Homo sapiens: one gene and its partners. The protein of the gene in region 1 purifies or fractionates together with the protein of each later gene. This does not show direct contact. Each region holds a gene or a part of one and is shown in the gene's direction. Other genes may lie near its edges.

Region 1 (3,500 bases):
AGCGGTTATAAAACAATTTTAGTGTAGGAAAAAAAGTTACTGGAATACTGGAATGACTAGGAAGAAGGCCACTGCATTTAATAAGACCTCAGTGAGACCACTGGGTGAGGCAGATGAAGATAAGGGGTAAGGCTTTGGGGTCAGACACATTTGAGCTTGAGTCCGGCATCTCCTCTAACAAGCTTTGTGACTTTGGGCTAATCTCTCTAAGCCTTAATTTTTCATCTGTAAAATGGAAGACTATAATGTCTATTTTGTAGGATTGAAGTAAAGATTAAATAAAAGAATAAAACAATGTACAGGAAGTTTTTAGCACAATGCCTGACATATAGTAAGCACCAAATCAAGGTGGTTTGTTTTGTTTTTCATTGAAACAAAGTCTGACATATATTATGTGGCATAACTCCATAATCGATTCGAGAAACAAAAGAAAATATTGATGATGCTATAAACAGCTGCTTGCGGACCTTCTTATAGGCCACACCCGGTGTGTAAGCCCCACCCTTGAGAAGTGCTGCTTTAATTCAAGCATAACCTTCCCATGTAGATACAAATCTGCCATTTTCCTGGCAATATCTGGAATGAGCCAAGCTCTTCACATTTTTCCATTTACCAGAGGGAGATAATAGCCATAGAATTATAACTCTGCCCCTGAACAGTCTGCCCCCAGCCAATCATCCTGCACATATTCCAAGATGGCTTTATAAGGATAGTACAAACTTGGGGTTTTGGTTTAACTCCGTATTTTGAAATCACTGTAGATTCACATGCAGTTGTAAGGAATGATTCAGAGAGACCCCTGTACCCTTCACCAGCTAACCCCAATGGCAATATCTACAAACATCTAATTTTATATAGCATTTTTGAATAAGTATTCATATTTCTTGTTTATGAAAGGGCACAGAAAAATCTTCTTTGCTTTAGTAAGACTACAAACTAAAGAACAAGTCTCTTCCCTCAAGGAACTTACCTGAGCTTCGATTTGGGGGATGAGAAATCTTGAAAGACAAAAAGAGAACTTATATGTGCACATCCTTTGTTTTGTCCTGGAATTAAAACTAAGATTTCTGCAAGAATTTTTTCAAAATTGGAATGTTTAATTGTAAAATTCTTGTTTTATTTTATTTCTCATTGCTCAAGTGCTTAGACTACTTAGGGGATTAGAACTGTCCACTTTTCCAGCCATAACTATGACATTTAAGATATCATACCTCTTGCCTCTTACAGAGGTGGCTCCTATACAAGGACCTCTTTAGGGATGAAAACCCTGTAAAGCATGTGGTAAGGATACCTGTGGCTGAGGACAAAAGCAAAAAAGCCAAATGCAGTCAGTTGATATACAATTTCTTGGAAACAGCTATGGCAGAAGCTTTCCATTATGAAAGGCACTGGGGTAGTGCTGTAGGGTCATTCAGACTCTGCTTTCAACTAACCAGAATTTGGAGCTCACTTAATGGTATTTCTGGAGCTGATTATGTACAGGAAGCAGCTGATATGCAGTGTCTGATGTGGTCATCCGTTCAATGGATAGGATGGCAGTTTATTTTATTTATTGTGTGAAATATTCAGATTTTCTGTTAATTTTTAAAGTAGGAAATGTCTCTCAACTTCATCATTGTCCTCTCTGCCCCTTTTCCCTGACTTCTTGAGTTTCTGAGCACCCCATCCTCAGCCTCCCTTCTCACCACCTTTCCATTTTTTCTTACTGTTCTCATGGATTTTCCCATGTCTCTCTTCCTCCCTTTCTCTTCCTCTCAGTTCTTAAAAAAAAAAAAAAAAAAAAAAAAAAAAAAAAAAAGAGCTGGGGGAGAACAAACAGAAAAATCATTTACTAAAACATTTGGTTAAAAACCTTGCAATCATATGTTTATTTTAATTTCATTTTATCATTTTCCAAAACGCAGCCTGTGAGAACCATACTCCTGTTTTGCCTACTGGGCATTTGTAGGTATTCAGTGGGAATGAAGCATGGTCCATTTATAAACAAACATCTGTTTGTCTTTATTGCTGGGTTTGTTTGTGGCATTTGGAGGAGTAATTAAATGTATGTTAGTAATAGCTACTTTAAATATTTTAAACTAGCTACAAAATGAAAAAGTAGAAATGACGATTATATAAATCAATGTTTGGAATGCTGCCATAGCTTAAGGCTTGGGGAGTTAATGATGGGGGAGAAAGACTTTTTTAACCTCTGTTATCATCTGTGTACAAGGATGAACCTGTCAGTGACTCACATGAGCCACCAGAAGAGGCAGCTGAGTGGACAAATGGAATATAAGTTACCTTGAGGTCAGCCTGAATTTAAGGAACCAAGGCATGAGGGGACTATCAGTGAAAAAGAAAACCAAATAACAGGTCCTGGAAGGTCCAGACTTTACTACCAAAACAGCAGCTAACCAGAGTGGCAGGTGGGAGGATGTGAGAGGGAGAGAGGGAGAGAGAGAGAGTGTGTGTGCGTACTGGGTATCCAGAGATGAAGAAAATAGAAGTGGGGTTGTGAAGGGACATGGCATGGAGCTTACCTGTCCCTGAAGGCCTGGGGGTAGTTTCTGAAAGGGCAGACTCCCACCAAACAAGCCATATGTTCTAATTCAATATCAAATGCAGCCATAAAATCATTTGATGAACTCTGACAATCCTGTGGATATGACACTATGCTATGGGAATATACTCCTTGCCAGTTTGGGGTGCCATGTGAGTCTCTGTTACCATTTGTTGGAAGGAAACACAATGTTAAGTAGGGGAGAAATTCAATTTTACAAATATAGCTATAGTTTGATTGATAGCAATTGTATATGGGGCTGCTTGCTTTTCAGTGTGAGGAAATAGGCCCAGTAGGATTCTTCTAATACTCTGGTTTGTCTTTGCAATATTTGTACGTGTCTGTGAGCAATACTATTTTTCTCAATCAAGGTATATGCTTGTAGCATTTCAAAATGTGTTGGGCGTGCTTTTAAAGATGCAAGATGCTCTGTTTTATTCTCAGGGGAATTCCTGTGTACTGTTACCCTGGGGATAGAATTCCTTAAAATAAAACAATAATAATAGCAGCGAAAACCCTAAATACTCCAAGTGATGCTCACACTTAAGCAGAGAAGCAGCCTAGGGTGTACATGTATATACAGTGAGATCAAAAAAAAAAAAAAAAGGAAAAACTAATTCTGTGTTGTAGTTTGTGGGACACTGAAAAGAGGTCAAGAAATAGACGGTAAAAAATATATATATAGAAAGGAATAATAAGTATCTCCTCTATTTCTTCTTTCGCAGTTCTGTTTTGAACCCAAAGTGGATGATGCTGTCAGAGCTGAACCACTGAAAGGAGGCTGTGAAAATTTCCCATCTTCTCATTGGCCATCAGTTGAGATAAGATGGAAGACTCTTACAAGGATAGGACTTCACTGATGAAGGGTGCCAAGGACATTGCCAGAGAGGTGAAGAAACAAACAGTAAAGAAGGTGAATCAAGCTGTGGACCGAGCCCAGGATGAATACACCCAGAGG
Region 2 (3,500 bases), on another chromosome or scaffold:
GGAATAGACATAAAACTTTAGGTAGGTGAATGTACAGGAAGTATTGTTATGTAAATTAATAATCAGCATTTTCATATTTCATAGAAATAGCAGGCAAGAGAGTACCTCTGGGTTTAGGTAGTTTCTGGGGAAAAAAAATGAACTGAGGAAAAGTTGCTGTCTCAATGCTAGCTGTCAAGAGATGCTTACTGGGTCCAGGCACCGTGGCTCATGCCTGTAATCCCAGTCCTTTGGCAGGCTGAGGAGGGCGGATTGCTTGGGCCCCCAGGAGTTAAGACCAGCCTAGGCAACAAAGCAAGACCCTGTCTCAGTTTAATTAAAAGAAATTTGATATCTTTATTAATTTTTTTTAAAGAGAAGCTTACTGGAAGAACTTGTGGGGAGTGCTTTTTGTGCCCCTAATCTGAAGTTATTTATCAAAACCAGTCTCTGATTCCAGCCCCCACCACCTACATTTCCCCTCCCAGCTTACAGGAAACCCCTCCCAAGGCCTTTATACTGTGGTTTGGGATTGTGTAAGGTTCAGTAGAGCCCTTTGAGGTGGAAGACTTCCCCTTCCTCACCAGCATTTCACCTTTAGGGGCATGAAACTGACTCTCTGTGCCTCCTCCATTCTTCACCCCAAGTACTATGTGACTTAATCTTTTTATCCTTGGGTGAGGCAGAGAGAAGGTATCCCTAAACATACAAGCACTGTGTATTCTTAGTATGTTGTGTGAAGGGGCAGGGTGTGGGGTAGGGCAGAGGAATTATCTCTGTCATGGCTATGAGGGGGTTACTGATGTGATGCCTATTAGAGTAAGCTAAAGATCATCATATTAATAACCATTAGCGTAGATTTAACATTTCTTTCTCCACCTCTTATCCTTCTTTCTCCTTTGTGCTCTCCCTTTCTCTCTGTCTTTCCTCCCTTCCCTGTCATGATCTGTTTCAGGGAAGCTGACTCCACCCATGTGTTCAATCCCACCAGTCTTCCCTCCCAAGTCTGGAAGCCCCACGACCTCTTGGTCTCATCTGGTCACAGCAAGTTAGAGGTGGAAAGAGCTCAGCACGGGGCCCTTCTGTTTACACATATACTGCCCATAGCCAGGAGTTACTGCACAAACACTAGCCAGCCTTCTACACTACATTCCTTTTCCAAGACTTTTCTGGGTTAGTTTGCTTTCCAGCCCACTGATTTCCTTCTTATTGGACAGGTCACTCTTTTGCATCCCAAGCCTGGCTTAGGCAAGTCCCTGAGGTTAGTAAACACCTTCAGTGCCCCTCAGCCAAGTCCCTTTTGACCATGGAATACCATCAGCCTGAGGATCCAGCCCCTGGTAAGGCCGGGACTGCAGAAGCAGTCATCCCTGAAAACCATGAGGTTCTGGCAGGCCCAGATGAGCACCCTCAGGACACAGATGCAAGAGATGCTGATGGGGAGGCTAGAGAACGGGAGCCAGCAGACCAAGCTTTGCTGCCTAGCCAGTGTGGGGACAACCTTGAGTCCCCTCTGCCTGAAGCTAGCTCAGCTCCACCGGGGCCAACCCTTGGGACACTGCCTGAAGTAGAGACAATAAGGGCATGCTCCATGCCCCAGGAGCTTCCTCAGTCCCCCAGGACCCGACAGCCTGAGCCAGATTTCTACTGTGTCAAGTGGATCCCTTGGAAAGGAGAACAGACACCCATCATCACCCAGAGCACTAACGGCCCTTGCCCTCTCCTTGCCATCATGAACATCCTCTTTCTTCAGTGGAAGGTAAGAGAACATGCAGTTAGGGGTGCAAAAAATATCAGGGAGTACTCTTCCCTGACTTACTTCCTTGATCATCCTGATGTCCTCAAACTAGTCAAAACTTTTCAGATTGTTCTCCCTATTTCTCCAGCTTGAGCAAATGAGATAAGATGTTCCTAAAAACAAAGAAAAAAAAAAAAGAGGAAGATCTGTCCTACCCCTGTATCTCCTACTCCCTAGCAAATGCACATGCCTTGCAAGATTTCACATTCATTCCCTTGTGCCAGTTGCAAGCCTTTTTTCCTACCCCACCCTACTACTGGAGCTCCCCCTTGCCTTTCCATGGGTTCTTCCTTCAGTGCTCTTTGGAGGAAAGCACACACGTGATCACCCCTTCTGCCTCCAGGTGAAGCTCCCCCCGCAGAAGGAAGTGATCACATCGGATGAGCTCATGGCCCATCTTGGTGAGTGACTGGGCGTTGAAGAGGAATTACCCAAGGGGCTCCAGAGCTATCCACTCAGCCAGAAATCCAGACTATTCAGGGATCTCCATTTGGGGGTTCTGATACAGCAGGGAGGGTAAGGGTCTATGGGGCTTCTCTGCAAGGCTGGAGAATGAAAAGCAAAGGCGTCGGGAGTCCTGGGTTGTAACACCAATTCTGCCCTTAGCTTTTGTATCTGACCCTGGGTGGGCCGTTCACCTTTATGAGGCTGTCGCCTCCTCTGAGAAATGAAGAGTCTGGATTAGACTCTAAGTATTTTCCAGCTCTGAAAATCTGTGTTCTGTGACATTACCCGCATTCTCCAGGAGAAGAGGAAACTTAGCTTTTGGGATGATTGGTGGGGTAAGCTGATAAGGGGCCCTGTCTTGTAGGAAACTGCCTCCTGTCCATCAAGCCCCAGGAGAAGTCAGAGGGACTTCAGCTTAATTTTCAGCAGGTGAGGCAAAAGGTCTGCAGGCATAGGGGTTTGCAGGTTTGTAAGGGGACATCTTGTAATACTAAGATAAGCTTTTGTTGCTTCTTCAGAGGTTTCCTTGAACCATGATTTCATTCTGCAGGAGTCAGAGGAGAGTTTATCTTTGTCCTAGAAAATATGTTCATTGGCCGGGTGCTCACACCTGTAATCCCAGCACTTTGAGATGCCAAAGCGGGAGGATCACTTGAGGCCAGGAGTTCGAGGCCAGCCTGGGCAACATAATAATACCCCTGTCTCTAAAAAAAACCATTTTTTTTTTCAAGAATTAGCCAGGTATGGCGGTGCGTGCCTGTAGTCCCAGCTACTCAGGAGGCTGAGGTGGGAGGGTCACTTGAAACCAAGAGTTTGAGGCTGCAGTGAGCTAGGATCACACCACTGCACTCCAGCCTGGATGAAAGAATTAGACTTAGACTCTCAAAGAAAAACAATGTTCATTTATATAAGATAGAGAAGGGTTGAGGCAAGGGAGAAATGGAGTGGCTTGTAAGAGAATCAGGGAAGAAGAGCAGCAAGGTTAATTTTTAATTTCTGCAGGTGGGAGTGGAGTGGTGGGAGAGAAGGCTAGAATCTCCATCATTTTTTTTTCTACCCCCAGAATGTGGATGATGCAATGACAGTGCTGCCTAAACTGGCCACAGGTCTGGATGTCAATGTGCGATTCACAGGCGTCTCTGATTTTGAGTATACACCCGAGTGCAGTGTCTTTGACCTGCTAGGCATACCTCTGTACCATGGCTGGCTTGTTGATCCACAGGTGAGGGTGGGAGGGCCCACTGGGACCTTATCCAGCTCAAGCTGACATGAGAGA
Region 3 (3,500 bases), about 43 Mb from region 1:
CAATAAAGTAATTTACTGAAGTGCATTTTGTTCATTAATTATCTCTTTCCATGCTTTTCAATGTATGTAATTTGAAGTAAAGTGAACAAATTACTTGAAAGATCTTTTTTCCTCCAAAATATGATGAGATGTAGTCAAGAGAATGATCTTCTTGATTGTTAAAAATCAAAGTTTTAATAAACGCTATGTTAAACTTTAGAAACTTATCCTATACATTTGTAGCAATAACAATTTTTATGAAAGAATAGCCATTGGAATAATTTGAAATGAAGGACTGGGAATTAGAATTTGAATTCCTTTAATGACTATTTTGATAAAAGCCTATTTAGACATTTAGTTCATGCTGTGTACACTTCCTCTTGAAATAAGACCTGGAATTACTACTTAAAAAACACTATTATGATTTGTTCCTAGCCAATTTTATTCTATATTAGCAGAACAAATGTACTTTGAGTACCATTACCTCATGTGGCTATTGTGCTATGCCTTTTACTATTTATAAGGATTCAGCATGGACTGAATTCTGTTTATAAGAGTGCATCCCCTGATCCCCACTTCCCCCCCAAAAAATGCCCAAAATACCAAGGCCCAGTCTCTATCAGTGTATTTACATTAGAATTTTGGGGGATGGGACCTCATAGGGTTTCTTTGTTTGTTTGTTTTAAAGGGCTCCAGCTGATTATAAAGCCAGGTTTAGTAACAGTTGTATTAAATCAGAAAGCCTTTATGTTTGTTCATCTTGACATTTACTTTAGCAGCCTTTTATTTTATCTGGATTATTATATTCTTTTTCATATGAGGCAAAAATAATAAATTTTAAACTTTGTACTGTTTCACAGTGAAATTACACTTCCATTGTAATCAGAATAAATCTTTTTTTTTTCTTCTCCTCCTAAGGTCCAAGAAACTGGAGACATTGTCATTTCAAATGCATATGTGGATCTTGCACCAACATCTGGTACTTCAGCTAAGACACCCTCTGAGGTAGGTTATAAAAATTAGTATCCAAGCCACTTCCTCATTTAGGAATTTCAGTTAAGGTGACTTTAAGAGTGGTTAGGCTACGTTAGAAAATTAACAACCATGAAACTATTCTTAATTCTTGAAGTGAAAAACATTAATTCAAAACAGCTTGGAATAGAAGGAATACTCTGGCAATTTATGAACTTTAAAAAACTCGTTTTGCAGGATACTAGGATATCTTTCAAGAGAACATAATTTTCTAGTTTTAGAATAAATAAATCAGTTGTTTAATCAGAATCTTAAGCAAACAGCGTTTTGGAGAAAAATAGATTAAAAAGTTGAATATCCTGTACCTTTTTCTTGATTTAAAGGTTTATATAAAGTTTTGTATGCAAATATATAAACCAGCAGCGTGTATAATTTATTAAAACATTGTATTATTTATTAGCATGCTGAGACTTTTGATAAAAATGTTTATATTCTATCTCTGAAATATTAACTTTGTAATGTTGAGGTTTCGATACCCATGATCTTTAATTGTCTGTCATAAACCATATAACTGACTGAAAATTAAAATCCCTTAAGAATAGTCTAAGAAAAAAAAAAACTTAGAGCGGGCTCGGTGCCTCACGCCTGTAATCCCAGCCCTTTGGGAGGCTGAAGTGGTTAGGTCACTTGAGGTCAGGAGTTCAAGACCAGCCTGGCCAACATGGTGAGACTCCATCTCTACTAAAAATACAAAAATTAGCCAGCCTTGGTGGCAGGCTCCTGTAATCCCAGCTACTCAAGAAGCTGAAGCAGGAGAATCACGGGAACCCGGGAGGTGGAGGTTGCAGTGAGCCAAGATTGCACTACTGCATTCTAGCCTGGGCGACAAGTCTGTCTCAAAAAAAAAAAAAAAAAACAAAAAACAAAAAAAACCCAAAACTTAAGTTTTAGAGCTGTAAAGAAATTCAGACTTCATGTAATTTAGTATTATTTTATAAATAAAAAAAATGAGACCATAGAAGTTGATTAATTTGATCAGGATCTTTCTAAAGTTAGCTAAAACATAGGTTGTCCAGTTCCTATTTTTCTTTTAAAATATTATTTCTGAATTCTAATAAAAGTAAAATCCTGTTATTAAGAGGACTGAGGTTCTGAGTGATGTATACAAATAAGAAAGTATGAAAGACACATTGTATGAAGAAAACTGACTTATGTACAGAGTTTTAAAAAATCTTTTTTTTGCACATGTTTTATAATCACTTTTCTCCATGAGTTATTTTTACAGAACTTTTAAAGTTTATTTTGTTGTCGTTGTTAGGGCGGGAAGCTTCAGAGTACCTTTGTATTTGAGGAAATAGGACGCCGCCTAAAGGATATTGGGCCTGAGGTGGTGAAGAAAGTAAATGCTGTATTTGAGTGGCATATAACCAAAGGCGGAAATATTGGGGCTAAGTGGAGTAAGTTATAGCCCTGATTTTATAATATTCTAAGGTAATTCTTAGTAAATAAAGTATCTTTTTAACAATTAAAGACCTTTGAAGGTAGGTAAATCTTACCTTTTTAGGTAAGTTTTTTTTCTTTTCCCGTGGGAATGAATAGGTTTGGGAATGTCCAAAGGGGGGTGTGTGTGTGTGTGTGTGTGTGTGTGTTTGTGTGTGTGTGTAAGAGATGTAGGGAATCAATTGAAATGAAAATAACCTGTTTTAAGATTTCATTGTAATCCTTGAAAGTAGTTTAAACAGTCATCTTGGCTATATGCATCTTTATCTAATCTTCAGCTTCTTAAACATAAGGCAAATTCATCAAGTCAAAATGAAGTATTTTTAAGTCATGATATTTGACAGTTACAAAATTATTTTATTCATACCAAAACAATAATTTGGATTATCTTAATTATCAATATAAAATCACTATTTTCTAGATATATACAGATTATGGTCAAAGGTGTTTGTTTATCTAATCTAGGGAAATTATCTATTAGAGTGCCATGCACCCAATATAAAACATCTTGCCGCAGAAAGAAAGCAGTCATATTTCTTTTCACTGATGTGGAGGTCCAAAGAGACCCTGGTACCATTTTGTGAAGAAAGAGAAATTAGAGGATAAAAAGAATAAAGAAAAAATATTCTGTCAGATCTTTTGCATCTGCTGTGTAACTCACATCCTTAATCATGGCACACACTTTAATTATGGAATATTCTAACCTCACCTTTATTTTCCTAGAGATTCTTCAATTAGGTTGAAAAGATGAAAATGGATAGGAGGTAGAGCAGTAAGTCCCTGAATTCCCTTTCAGCAGAGTCTGTTGCTTGTCACAGTTATCTTACTGTATTATGGTCATTTATAATTGTATGTTTTCTCTCATTTGACTTTGGGCTTAATCCTGAGAAATGGCTGCAGTTTGTCTATTTCTAGCTTCTAGTATAGTCAATAACACATAATAACTAGCCTGATTCTGTATATGTTGGAATGAGTGCTAAAAGCCATGTAGAAAGCATAGTTTTAGAAAATAGTATGGCTGCCTTTTAAAAAAAAGGTTCTGAAATTGA
Region 4 (3,500 bases), about 97 Mb from region 1:
TCTGATTTTTTTAAAAAAATGTACAGAACTTAGCTTAGGGCCCATCCATCCATTCATTTTCTGTCCATCCATCTAGTCAACAAATATTTACAAAGTACCTACCGTGTCCAGGCCTTGCATACCTTGGTGAGGACAAACATGGTCCCTGCCCACCTGGAGCTTCCAGTCTAGGGGGGAAGACAGATGTTGATCAAATAATGGTACAGGCCAGGTGCGGTGGCTCACTCCTGTAATCCCAGCACTTTGGGAGGCTGAAGCGGGCGAACTGCTTGAGGTCAGAAGTTTGAGACCAGCCTTGCCAACATGGTGAAACTCTGTCTCTACTAAAAATACAAAAATTAGCCGGGCGTGGTGGCAGGCACCTGTGATCCCAGCTACTCAGGAGGCTGAGGCAGGAGAATCACTTGAACCTGGGAGGTGGAGATTGCAGTGAGCTGGTATCATGCCACTGCACTCCAGCCTGGGAGAAAGAGTAAGACTCCTCCCAAAAAAAGAAAAAATAAAAATAAAAATAAATGGTACAAATAAATGTGAGATAAAGCCATGTCACATGACAATGGAAGAGAACATTCTAGCCTTCTTGTCTCTGTAACCACCGTTCTCATGGGTTAGAAATGAAGCCTTCACACGGTCAGTCTCAAGACAGCAAATAGACAAACTTCCTTTTCCTTGTTGAGAAATTGCAGTTCCTTCCAGTTGTTGAGGAATTGCTTGTTGAGAACATGCAGGTGTGTTAAGTGCTCAGTAAACATCAGCCGCCTGAGACCAGGATCAGGGATTATGCCACCCCGCTGCTGCCCACTGCTCCTGGAGTGGCCACAGAATCATGTCCCCACGTACCTCTCCGATGTCTCCTCCTTCCTTCTATTCAAACACCTCACTCTCCTTCCTCCTGGGGGCCACGTGGGCCTGTCTCCATACTTAAGCCTTTGTACATGCTGCTTGCCAGTTTAACTTCCCACTTTCCTCCAGATCTTGGTGTCAATGTCATTTCCTCCAGGAAGGCCTCCAGGGTGTCTAGCTCGATAACCCCTGTTAACCATGCCCATGGTAGCATGCTCCATTTACCAGGTATGCCTTGTCCTTCTTTAGATGTTCCTTGAGGCCAACCTGGTTTCCCATTGTCCTCAGAGAAAAGGTGAGATGTGGTTTTCAGCCCTACTCTACAGCAGCCCACCCCACTGCCCGGAGGAGGGTTTTCTTCACATCTGCTATACGTTCTCTGCAGCAGACATGATGGGGGGCCCACAGCTCTGGGGCATCCCTGCCTGGACTCCTCTATGGGCCTTTCAGAGGACCCTGGGATCTCAGGAGAAACTTTCTGGGACCCAGAATCCATGTTCACTTGAATTTTCTGTGTGACTTCATGGAAAGAGTCCAGCTTAGTGTCAGACAGACCTGATTTCAGAGTTTAGCTTAGCCACTTACCAGCCGGGCAAGTTTTGGTGTCTTTCCAAGCCTTGATTTGCTCTTCTGTAAAATGGGCCCAATAATACATCATTAGGGGCATGAAATGAAATTATATGAAGGGGCCAGGATGGAGCAGCACATAGTAGGGGCTAGAGATGGGAAACAAGCTTGTGCCTACTATGTGCCAGGCCCCTGCTGCCTCTTGCTCCCCACAAATCCGCTGGAGCCCCCTTTTACACATTGGTAGGGTTCCTAGACCAGGTGGTACCTGGCCATCCCCCACAACCAGGGCCAGGCCTGGAGGTGGAGGTGTCCTGGGGACCATCCCCTCACTGCATTTTTCCACAGGTCCAGAACATCCACGGAGCTTTCAATGCTCTCGGGGGAGCAGACAGACTCACCTCCAACCGTATGTATCCCTGCTGGGAACAGCCTTCTGCTCCAAGATGCCCAGTACAGCAGGCAGGGAGGGGGAGGGCAGAGAGGTGGGGGTGCCTGTCCAGCACCCACTCCAAGGCAGGGAGGCTGCTGCTCACACTCCATTCCCACAGCTAACCAGTGGGAAGGTGGACCCAGCCCCGTCCAGACCCAGACCCTGATGGAGAAGGAAGAAGGCTTGTCCCGGGGCACAGCAGACGCACGCACGCAGTGGATACCAGCTATTACCATTATTGTTGCTCTCATCACAGCCACATCATCATCCTTAGTTGAACTAATTACCTAAGATCCCACAGGGAGCTATGGCAGAACCAGGATCTGTTCTGCCTCCAGGTCGCACCGTGAGAACAGGTCTGTGGGTGGCCCAGTCAGCTGTGACCACATGGCTGCCTCCCCCACACCTCACTCTCCTCCTGCTCAGACTCCTCCCATCGATAGTGGCTCCTCCTAGAGTCCTCGCCCTCCTTAGCTCCCTGGCACCTTGGCCCAGATCAAAGAGAACCGCACATCTCCACACGCAGACAGGAGAGCACGCATACCTTTCGTGCACACCAACACACATGAGCTCACATGGCCCCAGACACGTGCACAGAATGGGCCCGGGAGGCCTGTGTGCTCAAGCAGACCTGCAGACCCACTGCTGCACAGGGTACCTGGATTTTTCTTATTTCCTCACCTGAGCTCACCTTTTAACCCACATCTTTTCTTATTATTTCCTGAAATGCGTTTGCTCTCCCATTGTCAGGGATCCAAGGCAAAGAAAACATCCCTCTGTGACCTGCCCCCCCGACAAATCGAACCTCATTTTTCTGTGTCCCTGTGAGTCCTTGTCCATAAGCAGAACTCACTTTTCTTTTTTTCCAAGGCATGGATTGCAGTTTACCGTCTGCTTTTTGTACTTGACCTTATTACATAGCCACGATTTTCTTACTTTCCAGTTGTAATGGGAGCACAGTTGTCCATCTTGCAGCTCTGCTGTGCTTTTTTTTTTTTTTTTTTGAGACGGAGTCTTACTGTGTCACCCAGGCTGGAGTGCAGTGGCACAGTCTCGGCTCACTGCAACCTCAGCCTCCCGGGTTCAAGCAATTCTCCTGTCTCAGTCTCCCGAGCAGCTGGGATTACAGGTGCCTGCCACAATGCCCAGCTAATTTTCTGTATTTTTAGTTGAGACAGGGTTTCACCACGTTGGCCAGGCTGGTCTTGAACTCCTGACCTCAGGTGATCTGTCCCCACTCTGCTCTGCTTTTCTAAGTCATTGTCTTCTCACCGAAAGTGTCTGTCGTTTCCTGTGTTTCACTGTGGCAATAATGCCTCTGATATGTACAGGGTTGGCGCTCTGTTACCCGATTGCTTTCCAGCTGTGTCTGGTTCCCATTCATGCTGCCTCCAGCAACGGATAAGTATACGGCAGCACCTCCTTATTTGAGTGCAAATGTCTGGTTGTAATAGAGGTAGATGATTCTTGGTGTGGTGCCGTGGTCATTGTCGTTTTGTGTCATGGTAACATGTCATCCGACGTCGGCCGTCCACAAATGTCTGCAGCTACGATGGACCCTCAGCTGCTGGACAGGAAAGAGGATCAAGCTAAGAAGGCCCAGAGTGTGCAAGCAGAGAGAGGGTGTGGACAGAAAACCTTGCCTTCTCCAGGGCTA
Region 5 (3,500 bases), on another chromosome or scaffold:
AATTCTCAACTTCTTGTTCCCAGAAGCACAGCTAGAAGTGGACCCAGTTTAAGGGAGCTGGAGTGAAGCTTGGGGGGTGAATCAGAGAAGCTGCAGCCCCATGTTAGCTGGATATCCTAAATTAGGGACATGTTATGGACTCATCAGGAAAAGTGATTACTCAGAAAATAATGCATAATATTCTCTTCTATTTATATATTTTAAGGTTTGAAATGAAGATATGGCATATATATGAAGATTCCAGGACAAAGGAATTTAAAATTTTGAATTCTAAAAATATAATAAGAAATAAATGGTGACTTGTTATAAATCTAACCATATGTCACTCATTCTTGTTTTTTTTCTAAAAATATCTGACCATGTTGCCCGTCAACACTGGCAAAGTAAACTGGCTCATGCCCTGTGATTTTACATATCAGCAAGGGAGTCTGACATTTCTTCTGTTGGCAATACATAGTCCTGTAGCTGGCCCTCTGTGACCTTCTTCCACTTCCATCAAGGAAGCCTGAAAATTATGACTAAATCAGGACGGGGCTGGAAGCTCTAGTACCATACCCACAGAGCTTGTTAGTTCCCTTGTATTAGTAAAGCTAAAATTGAAAATTTCATCACCTCCTTAGCCTCAGAAAGGTACAGTCTAATGGGTTCAGGTATAATCCTAACCTCATTTGGTTGCCACAAGGGAGGAAATGCAGGACTGTAGATAGCTTGAAGCTACCTGCCACACAACTGAGAAAATAAACTCAAGAGCCCTTAGAGTAAGGACAGTCAGATTCATCGTTAAGGTACAACTAATGGTCATGCTTAGCAACTTATCTAAGGGATTCCTGTCTCAGTATCACGTATTTACCTTCTGAATATCATAATGCTAATAGACATAAAATTTATTTCTTTATTTTAGAATGAAAGGAAGACTTCATGATTGGTGTGCTATGTTGAATAATCGGGAATACTTTAGGATTATCTTAACAAAGTCAGAAATACTTGTTGCCTAATTTCCTTACTCATAGGAAATCTTTTATTTCTCCAACAGGTTATTTGGTTTTTACAAGGGAATTCTGCCACCTATCTTGGCTGAAACCCCAAAAAGAGCAGTGAAGGTAAGCATTGCATGCGTTCGCACCAAGCAAAAGTAGGGCACAGTAACAGCTTCAGCACAACAAACTCTTAAGACATTAAAATGAATTATATATAAAGCACTAAAAATTTTAATGCAGAAATTATAGCATAATTTTTATTATAATTAGACTTGGTCAGTCTCTCAAATATGTAGATCAATTTGTAGATTTTTTTAATCAGGTAAAAGCATTCCATTCTAATGGGGAAATTATTCAAAAAACAACATGGTGAATAAAATTCTAGTAATCAAACCACAAAATAGCTTGGACCTTTCTTCAAAGCAACTCAGAAATTTTTCTTTGGAGAAACAATTATTAAAGAAAGAGAGATGGAGGGAAGAGGAAAGAGGAGAGGAGGGAAAACTTTTCTCCCTAAATCATTCCCATTTCATGAACAGAGTAAACCAATATACCATATTTCTTTATATATGATTCTCATATAACATAATTTTTTGGAATGCCAACTTCATTTTCCCCCTTAGTCTCCTCTGTTAAAATTCTCTATTCTGGTTCTTAACAAAAATTATTACTTCCACTACCCTGATTTCCATTTACTTAACCACATAACTGTAGAGGTTTATGTACTACTTGCTAGTTCAGTATCTGAAGAGGAACAGGGAGATCCAGCAGAATGTCCAGGGGCAAAAGAACTCAATCTGACTACTGTCTTCTCTCAGACAAAAGTCCTGATCATAGCGACTCTGACAGGCATTGCTCCCCTCCCCCGCACCACTGACATCACCAAATAAGGCTTTGTCCTTCCATAATAATGATAACCTAAACTTAAAGACTTACTTTCCAAGCAACATAAGGTTTTTTTTCACATACATTACTCATGTGTGTGAAATGTATTCGCAGTACTCCTGAAAGACAAGAAGGAACAGTTCATATACTTTTACTCAGTAAGTTCAAGAGGGTGACTGGATTAAAAATTATGATAAAATCACCCACATATATACATGAACATCCAACCTTTATATGATGTCAAAGTGGCAATTTAATAGGATTGAATTCAAGTCTAGAATTTGGAAAACAAAGCTTTAGAACATACTTTCTCTATAAACTCACCCTCTTTGTTGGTATAGGTTTTGTGATTTTATAGTATCACTTCAATACAAATTTTGTTATAAGGATCTGAATCACAGTAATGAATCTGGAATAAGTTCACCAAAGTAGACAAAAGAGCTGAATTGAATTATGAAATGGCTTTACTTGATAAAAGATTGCCCAAGTAAACAAATAGAGCAGAGTTCCTGTTCAAAAGGGAAGTCACTTTGTCTGCATGGAATAATATACTCATCTGTTCAGTGAGTTACATGTATAGATAAAGTAAACTAAAATTAGAGTTTTTCCTGGAATATTTTTTTCTTAATATTATGTGTTGGAGACAATTTAAACTTTAAGAGGATTAAGACTTATCAACATTAAGCAATCTTTTACAGAAAAAAATAGTTGAGCTTTATAAAACAGAGTCAGTCCCTATTTTCCAAAAGCAATGTTCTGTGCCAGAACAATGGTTAACAGATGAACTTTTGGGCAACTGAATATGGTGTATGTGTCCCAGACATCTTGTTTCAAGTAGATTTTACCTTAAAATTATTGAGACATATGGTAAGTTTGTTGGCTTTTTAAGTATAACTTGGAGTTAAGTGTATCTTTGCCAGATGGATAGCACTAGTTTTTCAACACAATTTATGAAAACATTCATTTTATAGATATTTATCTTAGGATTTGTGAGGAAAGCAATCACCTGATTTTAACGATTTCATACATCATAAACTGCTTCATTGTATGTCATCAAAGAAAAAAAATATTCAGAGACTGAGGGGGGCGGGGTGTGTGTGTGTATTCTTTGGTACTGACACTTTAGTTAAAATCATTACCATAATTAGAAACAGACAATCTTAAGTTTTTATGTACTTTATTCTTTGAAATGAGCTTTATCATTAAAGTAATAAGACTTACTGATGCTAAATAAATGAAATTTCTCCTTTCACAAATTAGACAGAGTTAATATTGTAGTTAGCAAAAGGAAAAGAAGACTTCAGAGAGACCAGCTGATCCCTCACAGATGGGCGGCACCATGGTTCCGGCTTCAGGGTCCAGTCTTGAGCTTCACACATACAGAAATACCAGTTTTCCCATGTGCAGTTTCTCAAGGACTGCCTTATGCTAACTAAATTCACAAGAGATTATAAACTATGAAGGCTAATTAGTTCACTACAGTATACCTATACCAATCATAGTATCTACACATACTAGATGTTCAGTTGATATTAGATGAATAAAGGAAACATATATAAAAAGAAACAGAAAGAAAACTTAAAAGAAAGAAACAAAGAAATATACATAGAGAGAAAATTCCCACATCCACTGTTCAGA
Region 6 (3,114 bases), on another chromosome or scaffold:
CAGGGAGTGAGAAAGCAGGGTGCAGCTCTAGATTTGTGAACTGGCTCAGCCGCATGCTGGCACAGTGGCCTTGGGAAGGCCCCTCAGGGTCCCTGTGGCCCCTCGGGCTGAGGGGGATCCCTGGCTGGGCCGGGTGGCGAGGCTGAGGGGTGTGGGGCGTGCCCGTCCCTCCAAGCCAGGCCCTTCTCCCCCAGATGACCTACTCCCTGACTCGGTTCGCCATCTACGAGACTGTGCGGGACCGTGTGGCCAAGGGCAGCCAGGGGCCTCTCCCCTTCCACGAGAAGGTGTTGCTGGGCTCCGTCAGCGGTGAGCTGCCGGGCGGGAGGGGGAGGGGCGCGGGGTGGTCAGGTCGGCCGAGGACGCCGTGTGTCAGCACGGCTCATCTCTGGGGTTTGTGTCACCGCAGGTTTAGCTGGAGGCTTCGTGGGGACGCCCGCAGACTTGGTCAACGTCAGGTTGGTGTTCCCCCACCCCACCTGCAAGGCCAGGGGCTTTCTTGTCCCCAGACATGCCAGGGCCTGCCAGGGCTGCTTGCAGGGTGGGGTCAGCCTGGAATAAGCCACTGAGACCCTGGTGTCCTGGGCATAGGAGGGTGGGTGTCCCTGAGCCCCGGCGTGCCCTGTCCTGTGGGCCCCGCTGACCAGCGTGAGCTCCCCTGTGCTGCCAGGGCTGCCCATGCCCCTCGGCCCGCCCGCCCCTCCCGCCACCTGCTTCTGTTTCAGGATGCAGAACGACGTGAAGCTGCCCCAGGGTCAGCGGCGCAAGTGAGTCATGGGCGGCCTTCTCGGGGTGGTTGAGGTGCAGGAGGCTCGGGCGGGAGCGGACCCCTGGCTGCTCTGCCGTGACCCAGCTGAGGCTCCAGCAGGCCGAGGTGCCTGCACGGTCCATGGAGGGTCCTGACGGCTGTTCTGGACTCGGGGGTGTCACTCTGCGCCCCCAGGACCTTTGGGTTCTTCCTGTGGGGAGAGCCTTGTTGGATTGGGGGCTGGGCCTGTTTGCACCCCAGGGTGGTGAGTGCGGAGGCGAACGCCCCAGGCATGGAGAGAGCGCATGCAACAGAAACGCCCGAAGGAGGCGCTGCCTCCCTGCCCAGCTCAGGGCAGCTGTGCCCTCCTGCCACGGCCTGGGGTCTTTCCAGGGCCCGGGGTCCGCTCCAACTGCAGTGTGAGCCACTTCCCCCGCCCCTTCCAAGGACCCCTGGGGAGTTCTGGCTTCTAGCTGTGCACACAGACTGTGTTCCCCCAGGACCCCGGGGGCTGGCGGGCAGGAGGCCTGCATGCTAGGAGCGGTGCCCAGCCAGGGACTCTGTTGGAAACGATGGAACCTCCTCCCTGAGGGCCGGGCGGGGCGGGCGAGGTGGCTGTGGGACGTCAGGACCAGCTTCATGTTCCCAGGGAGAGATCTTCAGGCCCATGAGGCCTCTGCTTCCTCGAGAACCCCCGGCCTGCCTCGGGGCCTGGGAGGACCCTCTGTGGGAGCCGGTGGTCAGGGGGAGTCTCATGTGGTCATTCTGTGTCCCCGGCAGCTACGCCCATGCGCTGGATGGCCTGTACCGCGTAGCTCGTGAAGGTGAGGGGCAGGTGCTGTGCACAGGCAGGGTTCTGGGGGGCAGGCAGGGTGGGCAGCGCTGTAGAAGACTGGGCGCTGAGGGATTTGGGCCAGGTGCCTGGCCTCACCCCTTGCCTCACCCCTTGCCTCACCCCTTCCTTGTGCAGAGGGTCTCAGGAGACTGTTCTCGGGTGCAACCATGGCATCCAGCCGAGGGGCCTTAGTCACTGTGGGCCAGGTAGGCCTCCTGCGTGGGGTGGGTGTGGGCAGTGCCTGTGACCACTGACCTCCATCTTCAGAGGGGCCATAGAACAAGGCACTGGGCGCCAAAACCCTCCTGGGGAGCCACCAGCTGTGACCTTGTGGGGCAGGGTGGGGGGCACGGGTGGGTCAGGGCTGCAGCCTGTGAAGGACCTCGGGCAGGTGCCTCCCCTGTCTGGGCCTCACGGACGGACAGACGGAGCAGGTGCTTGGCCATTGCCAGGTGGTGTCGCCTGGGGCCCTGTGTGCTTTCCCCAAGCTGGGGTCCCCCCTACAGCCCTGACCGCCCTTGTGCCCCTGCAGCTGTCCTGCTACGACCAGGCCAAGCAGCTGGTCCTTAGCACCGGGTACCTCTCTGACAACATCTTCACTCACTTTGTCGCCAGCTTTATTGCAGTAAGTGGCCGGCATGGCTAGGGTGGGCGTCCCTGGGCCGGCCTTGGGCGCTGAGGGCACCCAGGATGGGGCGAGGGCTGGGGGAGGCGGGGGCCTTGGGCATCTGGCAGTGCCCCCTGGGGCTCATAAGTGGGGTGCCAGGGCTTTGGGAGCTCATGGGTCAGCCTGGTGCCCCCGCCAGCATGTTCCTGGCCCGCCCTAGGAGTCAGGTGGAGGTTCTGGCACGTGGGTGGGATTCGGCGATGGTGCCTGGCGTACCTGACAGGCCGCTGGTGACGAGCCCCCTCCTCAGGGTGGATGTGCCACGTTCCTGTGCCAGCCCCTGGATGTGCTGAAGACTCGCCTGATGAACTCCAAGGGGGAGTATCAGGTGAGTGGGGCCCTGCCTGTGCAGTTGGGCTGCACAGCCCAGCGAGTCCCCTCACCTCTCCGGGGGGTGGACACTCGCACTGGGGACCCGGGGAAGGGTGTCCCTCCCTTCTAGTTGCCTGTCTCTGCACAGCACTTGCCTTGGGAGAGGGTTGTGCCTTTGAATGCCTTTGCCTTGTTTTTGTTTTTAGAGAAGACTTCTTGGCCCGGCGCAGTGGCTCATGCCTGTAACCCCAGCACTTTGGGAGCCTGAGGCAGGCAGACTGCTTGAGTCTAGGAGTTCAAGACCAGCCTGGGCAACATACTGAAACCCTGTCTCTACCAAAATTACAAAAATTAGGGGCCAGGTGCGGTGGCTCATGCCTATCATCCCAGCACTTTGGGAGGTCGAGGCAAGCAGATCACCTGAGGTCAGGAGTTCAAGACCAGCCTGGCCAACATGGTGAAACCCCCTCTCTACTAAAAATACAAAAAATTGGCTGGGTGTGGTGGCGTGCGCCTGTAATCCCAGCTACTCGGGAGGCTGAGGCAGGAGAA
Region 7 (3,194 bases), on another chromosome or scaffold:
GTTGGCGTACCGGCCAGGGCTGCCGAATGCCCTGGATGGAGTGACCTTCTGCGTGCAGCCTGGAGAGAAGTTGGGCATCGTGGGCCGCACAGGCTCCGGCAAGTCTTCCCTGTTGTTGGTGCTCTTCCGGCTGCTAGAGCCCAGTTCAGGGCGAGTGCTGCTGGACGGCGTGGACACCAGCCAGCTGGAGCTGGCCCAGCTCAGGTCTGGGGGAGATGGACTTGGGAGGGGAAGGGGGAACCAGAACTACTGGCACTTAGAGGAGGGCATAGCCAGGAAGGCTTTATATAAACTCACAGCAGCCAGGGCTGATCAGGGGGCTGAAATGGAGGACAGGATGAGCAGGCAAGGACAGCGAACTCCTAGTGCCCAGGTCCAGATTCATGGCTGGTGATCTCAAGGTCTTCCTCGCCCTGACCCAGGCCACCTTTCCAGCTTCATCTTTCTTGTACTTCCTACCATACACCCTCCACTCTTGTGCCCCAAGATACTGATCCCCTGAGTCCTAGGCTCAGCAGGCAGTGCTTCAGACAGCTTGAGACCTGAACCGGTTGCCCTTGGCTTCAGGTGGCCTCACTGGAGGGTATACAACCCTTCCTTACCTCCAGGTCAACCTAGTATCATTTTCTCTGAGTACGGTGACATGGAAAAGGTAGGGAAGCTGTATCCTAAAGCCCTAGGCCTGCCTCTTCTGCCTTCTCTTCTAAGCTGTGGTGGCCCTACCTTATAGCTCCATCATGTCTTCAGGACCCAATTCTAGGCCCACTCCAACCTTGAAGTGTCACCTGCCCTTTCAGTCGCTCTGGTCATTCCCTGCGTAGCCACTGCCACCCCTGGAGTCAGTGCCACACAGTTTAGCCCATTTGTTTTGTCTGGTTTGTGTGTGTGCACCTCCGTGAAATGTAGGCACCTTGAGGACAGAGTCCAGCCTTTGGTTTCTTTGGTATTGCTCATAGCACTGGCACAGTTCTAGGTACCCAGCTACTAACAGATCATTTGGTGGGGATGGGGTGGGGAGCAGAGTGGGGTTATGTTCAGGTCTCATACCCAGGCTTTCATGGAGGTGCTAGCCCTGTAGTCAGAAACTGAGCTGGGAGCAGAAGTGGCTACATCTCCAACCACTAGACTCCATGTCATTGTCCCCCAGATCCCAGTTGGCTATCATCCCCCAGGAGCCCTTTTTGTTCAGTGGGACTGTTCGGGAAAACCTGGACCCCCAGGGCCTACATAAGGACAGGGCCTTGTGGCAGGCCCTGAAGCAGTGCCACCTGAGTGAGGTGATTACATCCATGGGTGAGTGCTGGACCCTGACCTTAGAGCAAGAAGGGAGCAGGGATGGCCTGGGCCCTGCAACGAAGATGCTTTCCTTGCAGGTGGTCTGGATGGTGAGCTGGGTGAGGGGGGCCGGAGCTTATCTCTTGGGCAGAGGCAGCTGTTGTGTTTGGCCAGGGCTCTCCTCACAGATGCCAAGGTAAGGTGAGAGAAAGAGACATTAGAGAGGGCCAGGAAGAAGGCTGGGGGCCGGGAGGTGGGGAGGTAGAGTGGGGAGAGGTTTTAGGGGACCAAGTTCATTTTCCTTTTAGAGCTGGAAGTGGGGAGCTGTGGTAGGGGCTGTTGCTTGGGCCAGGCCCAACCCACCCTGCAGCCTCTCCTTCCTTCTTATCCCCTACCCCATTCCCATATTCCAGATCCTGTGTATCGATGAGGCCACAGCAAGTGTGGACCAGAAGACAGACCAGCTGCTCCAGCAGACCATCTGCAAACGCTTTGCCAACAAGACAGTGCTGACCATTGCCCATAGGTATGTAAACGCCTGGTAACAGCCTAATCAGGGACTGTGGTAGCATGCACCGAGAGCCTCCGTTGCTTTCAGGGACCCCAGTGGTCAGGGCCTTAGAGATCCTGCCCCCCCAGATCTCAGCTCCTCCTTCTCCAGGGACGAGAAGGGTCCTTTATAGCACTGCCTAGGGCCCTTTATAGCACATTATCTGAGGGCCCTTTATAGCACTGCCTAGGGCCCTTTATAGCACATTATCTGAGGGACTCTGCAGTCCCTTCCCCAGCACCAAGCCAGGGGCTAAAGCCTGTGGGGACAGACCTGTGGTGTCCCGAGGGGAGAGGAGGGAAAGCAGGTCAGTGTTCTTACTTAGGGCATTGTCCCTCATCCCCTACACTGACCATCTTCCCCCTCACAGGCTCAACACGATCCTGAACTCAGACCGGGTGCTGGTGCTACAAGCGGGGAGAGTGGTAGAGCTGGACTCCCCGGCCACCCTGCGCAACCAGCCCCACTCCCTGTTCCAGCAGCTGCTGCAGAGCAGCCAGCAGGGAGTCCCTGCCTCACTCGGAGGTCCCTGAGCCCAATCCCACACCCTGCAGAGTTCTCCCCTCTCTCTGATCCAGGCCGGGCCTATACAGAGGTGCTGGCTGCTTGTTTACATTCTCCTCTGGGGCTCTACCTCTCCACACTTCCCCAGAAGGGAAAAGGGCACCCTGGATTACTCTTTGGAAATCACTCCTTGGTGGGCAGCATCCTGAGGCTTCCCCAGAACCAGGCCTCTGCTCTGGCCCTCTTGCATCTGGAACGCCAGGTGGGTTTTTCTGGCATAGGAGCCCACTTGCATTTTCATAGTTTTATTTGATAAAATTCCATCTTACATTCTGTGTATTAAAAAAATAATATTTCTGGTGTGAGGCTGAGGTCTCCTCTGTGTGTGTACCCAAGCTGAAGGGTGGTGAGAACGGACCACTCCAGTCTGAGGGGTGGAAGAGGTGAGGAAGGGGGCCAGAAAGCCCCCACCTCCATCACAGTGCTGTGGTCTTTCCAGGCTCAGGGGGCAAGTCACGTGGCAGGGGGAGCCCTGCTGGCAGCATGCTAACCTGACACTCCTGGTCCTGGCACGCTGGAGCATAGTGTGGGGCAGGGTAGCAACAGGGTCCAGGGGGGCAGACACCCCGGCGCCAGGCCCTCAGGGTCAGCAACACAGTAGCCAGAACCAGGGCAGCAGTGAGGGCCCCAAACACCACCAGGGCCACCAAGCTAGGCTCACCTAGCCCAGCCTCTTGCCTCCGCACCACCTCCTTCACTGAGATCCGCAGCAGACCAGCCCCTGCGCTGTGGGGGGCTGGCCCCGTGGCAGGTACCACTACAGCTGAGGTGGGCCCTAGAGGGGTGTCCACTGTGGTTGGGGGGT

Evidence for each region.
Region 2: the proteins of SV2C (region 1) and MINDY1 purify together in Homo sapiens (affinity purification with mass spectrometry; one large-scale study listed by BioGRID and IntAct). This does not show direct contact.
Region 3: the proteins of SV2C (region 1) and HSD17B4 purify together in Homo sapiens (affinity purification with mass spectrometry; one large-scale study listed by BioGRID and IntAct). This does not show direct contact.
Region 4: the proteins of SV2C (region 1) and ERGIC1 purify together in Homo sapiens (affinity purification with mass spectrometry; one large-scale study listed by BioGRID and IntAct). This does not show direct contact.
Region 5: the proteins of SV2C (region 1) and SLC25A21 purify together in Homo sapiens (affinity purification with mass spectrometry; one large-scale study listed by BioGRID and IntAct). This does not show direct contact.
Region 6: the proteins of SV2C (region 1) and SLC25A10 purify together in Homo sapiens (affinity purification with mass spectrometry; one large-scale study listed by BioGRID and IntAct). This does not show direct contact.
Region 7: the proteins of SV2C (region 1) and ABCC10 purify together in Homo sapiens (affinity purification with mass spectrometry; one large-scale study listed by BioGRID and IntAct). This does not show direct contact.

Annotation. Positions count from the first base shown.
Region 1 is NC_000005.10:76,128,383-76,131,882, forward strand, and holds part of SV2C (synaptic vesicle glycoprotein 2C), read left to right. Parts: intron 1-3,267; 5' UTR 3,268-3,368; coding exon 3,369-3,500. UniProt on the Homo sapiens protein: Plays a role in the control of regulated secretion in neural and endocrine cells, enhancing selectively low-frequency neurotransmission.
Region 2 is NC_000001.11:151,000,403-151,003,902, reverse strand, and holds part of MINDY1 (ubiquitin carboxyl-terminal hydrolase MINDY-1), read left to right. Parts: intron 1-934; exon of another isoform or gene 935-1,196; coding exon of another isoform or gene 1,197-1,285; coding exon 1,286-1,738; intron 1,739-2,073; exon of another isoform or gene 2,074-2,120; coding exon 2,121-2,178; intron 2,179-2,588; coding exon 2,589-2,653; intron 2,654-3,287; coding exon 3,288-3,446; intron 3,447-3,500. UniProt on the Homo sapiens protein: Hydrolase that can specifically remove 'Lys-48'-linked conjugated ubiquitin from proteins. Has exodeubiquitinase activity and has a preference for long polyubiquitin chains. May play a regulatory role at the level of protein turnover.
Region 3 is NC_000005.10:119,528,997-119,532,496, forward strand, and holds part of HSD17B4 (peroxisomal multifunctional enzyme type 2), read left to right. Parts: intron 1-897; coding exon 898-984; intron 985-2,269; coding exon 2,270-2,408; intron 2,409-3,500. UniProt on the Homo sapiens protein: Bifunctional enzyme acting on the peroxisomal fatty acid beta-oxidation pathway.
Region 4 is NC_000005.10:172,924,751-172,928,250, forward strand, and holds part of ERGIC1 (endoplasmic reticulum-Golgi intermediate compartment protein 1), read left to right. Parts: intron 1-1,758; coding exon 1,759-1,819; intron 1,820-3,500. UniProt on the Homo sapiens protein: Possible role in transport between endoplasmic reticulum and Golgi.
Region 5 is NC_000014.9:36,732,107-36,735,606, reverse strand, and holds part of SLC25A21 (mitochondrial 2-oxodicarboxylate carrier), read left to right. Parts: intron 1-1,033; coding exon 1,034-1,100; intron 1,101-3,500. UniProt on the Homo sapiens protein: Transports dicarboxylates across the inner membranes of mitochondria by a counter-exchange mechanism.
Region 6 is NC_000017.11:81,715,284-81,718,397, forward strand, and holds part of SLC25A10 (mitochondrial dicarboxylate carrier), read left to right. Parts: intron 1-194; coding exon 195-309; intron 310-409; coding exon 410-458; intron 459-725; coding exon 726-767; intron 768-1,528; coding exon 1,529-1,572; intron 1,573-1,718; coding exon 1,719-1,789; intron 1,790-2,115; coding exon 2,116-2,208; intron 2,209-2,473; coding exon of another isoform or gene 2,474-2,500; coding exon 2,501-2,578; intron 2,579-2,768; coding exon of another isoform or gene 2,769-2,885; exon of another isoform or gene 2,886-3,061; intron 3,062-3,114. UniProt on the Homo sapiens protein: Catalyzes the electroneutral exchange or flux of physiologically important metabolites such as dicarboxylates (malonate, malate, succinate), inorganic sulfur-containing anions, and phosphate, across mitochondrial inner membrane.
Region 7 is NC_000006.12:43,447,734-43,450,927, forward strand, and holds the end of ABCC10 (ATP-binding cassette sub-family C member 10), read left to right. Parts: coding exon 1-204; intron 205-1,147; coding exon 1,148-1,293; intron 1,294-1,373; coding exon 1,374-1,471; coding exon of another isoform or gene 1,472-1,476; intron 1,477-1,688; coding exon 1,689-1,801; intron 1,802-2,195; coding exon 2,196-2,358; 3' UTR 2,359-2,694; downstream 2,695-3,194. Other genes in the region: DLK2 (protein delta homolog 2), read right to left, coding at 2,806-3,194. UniProt on the Homo sapiens protein: ATP-dependent transporter of the ATP-binding cassette (ABC) family that actively extrudes physiological compounds, and xenobiotics from cells.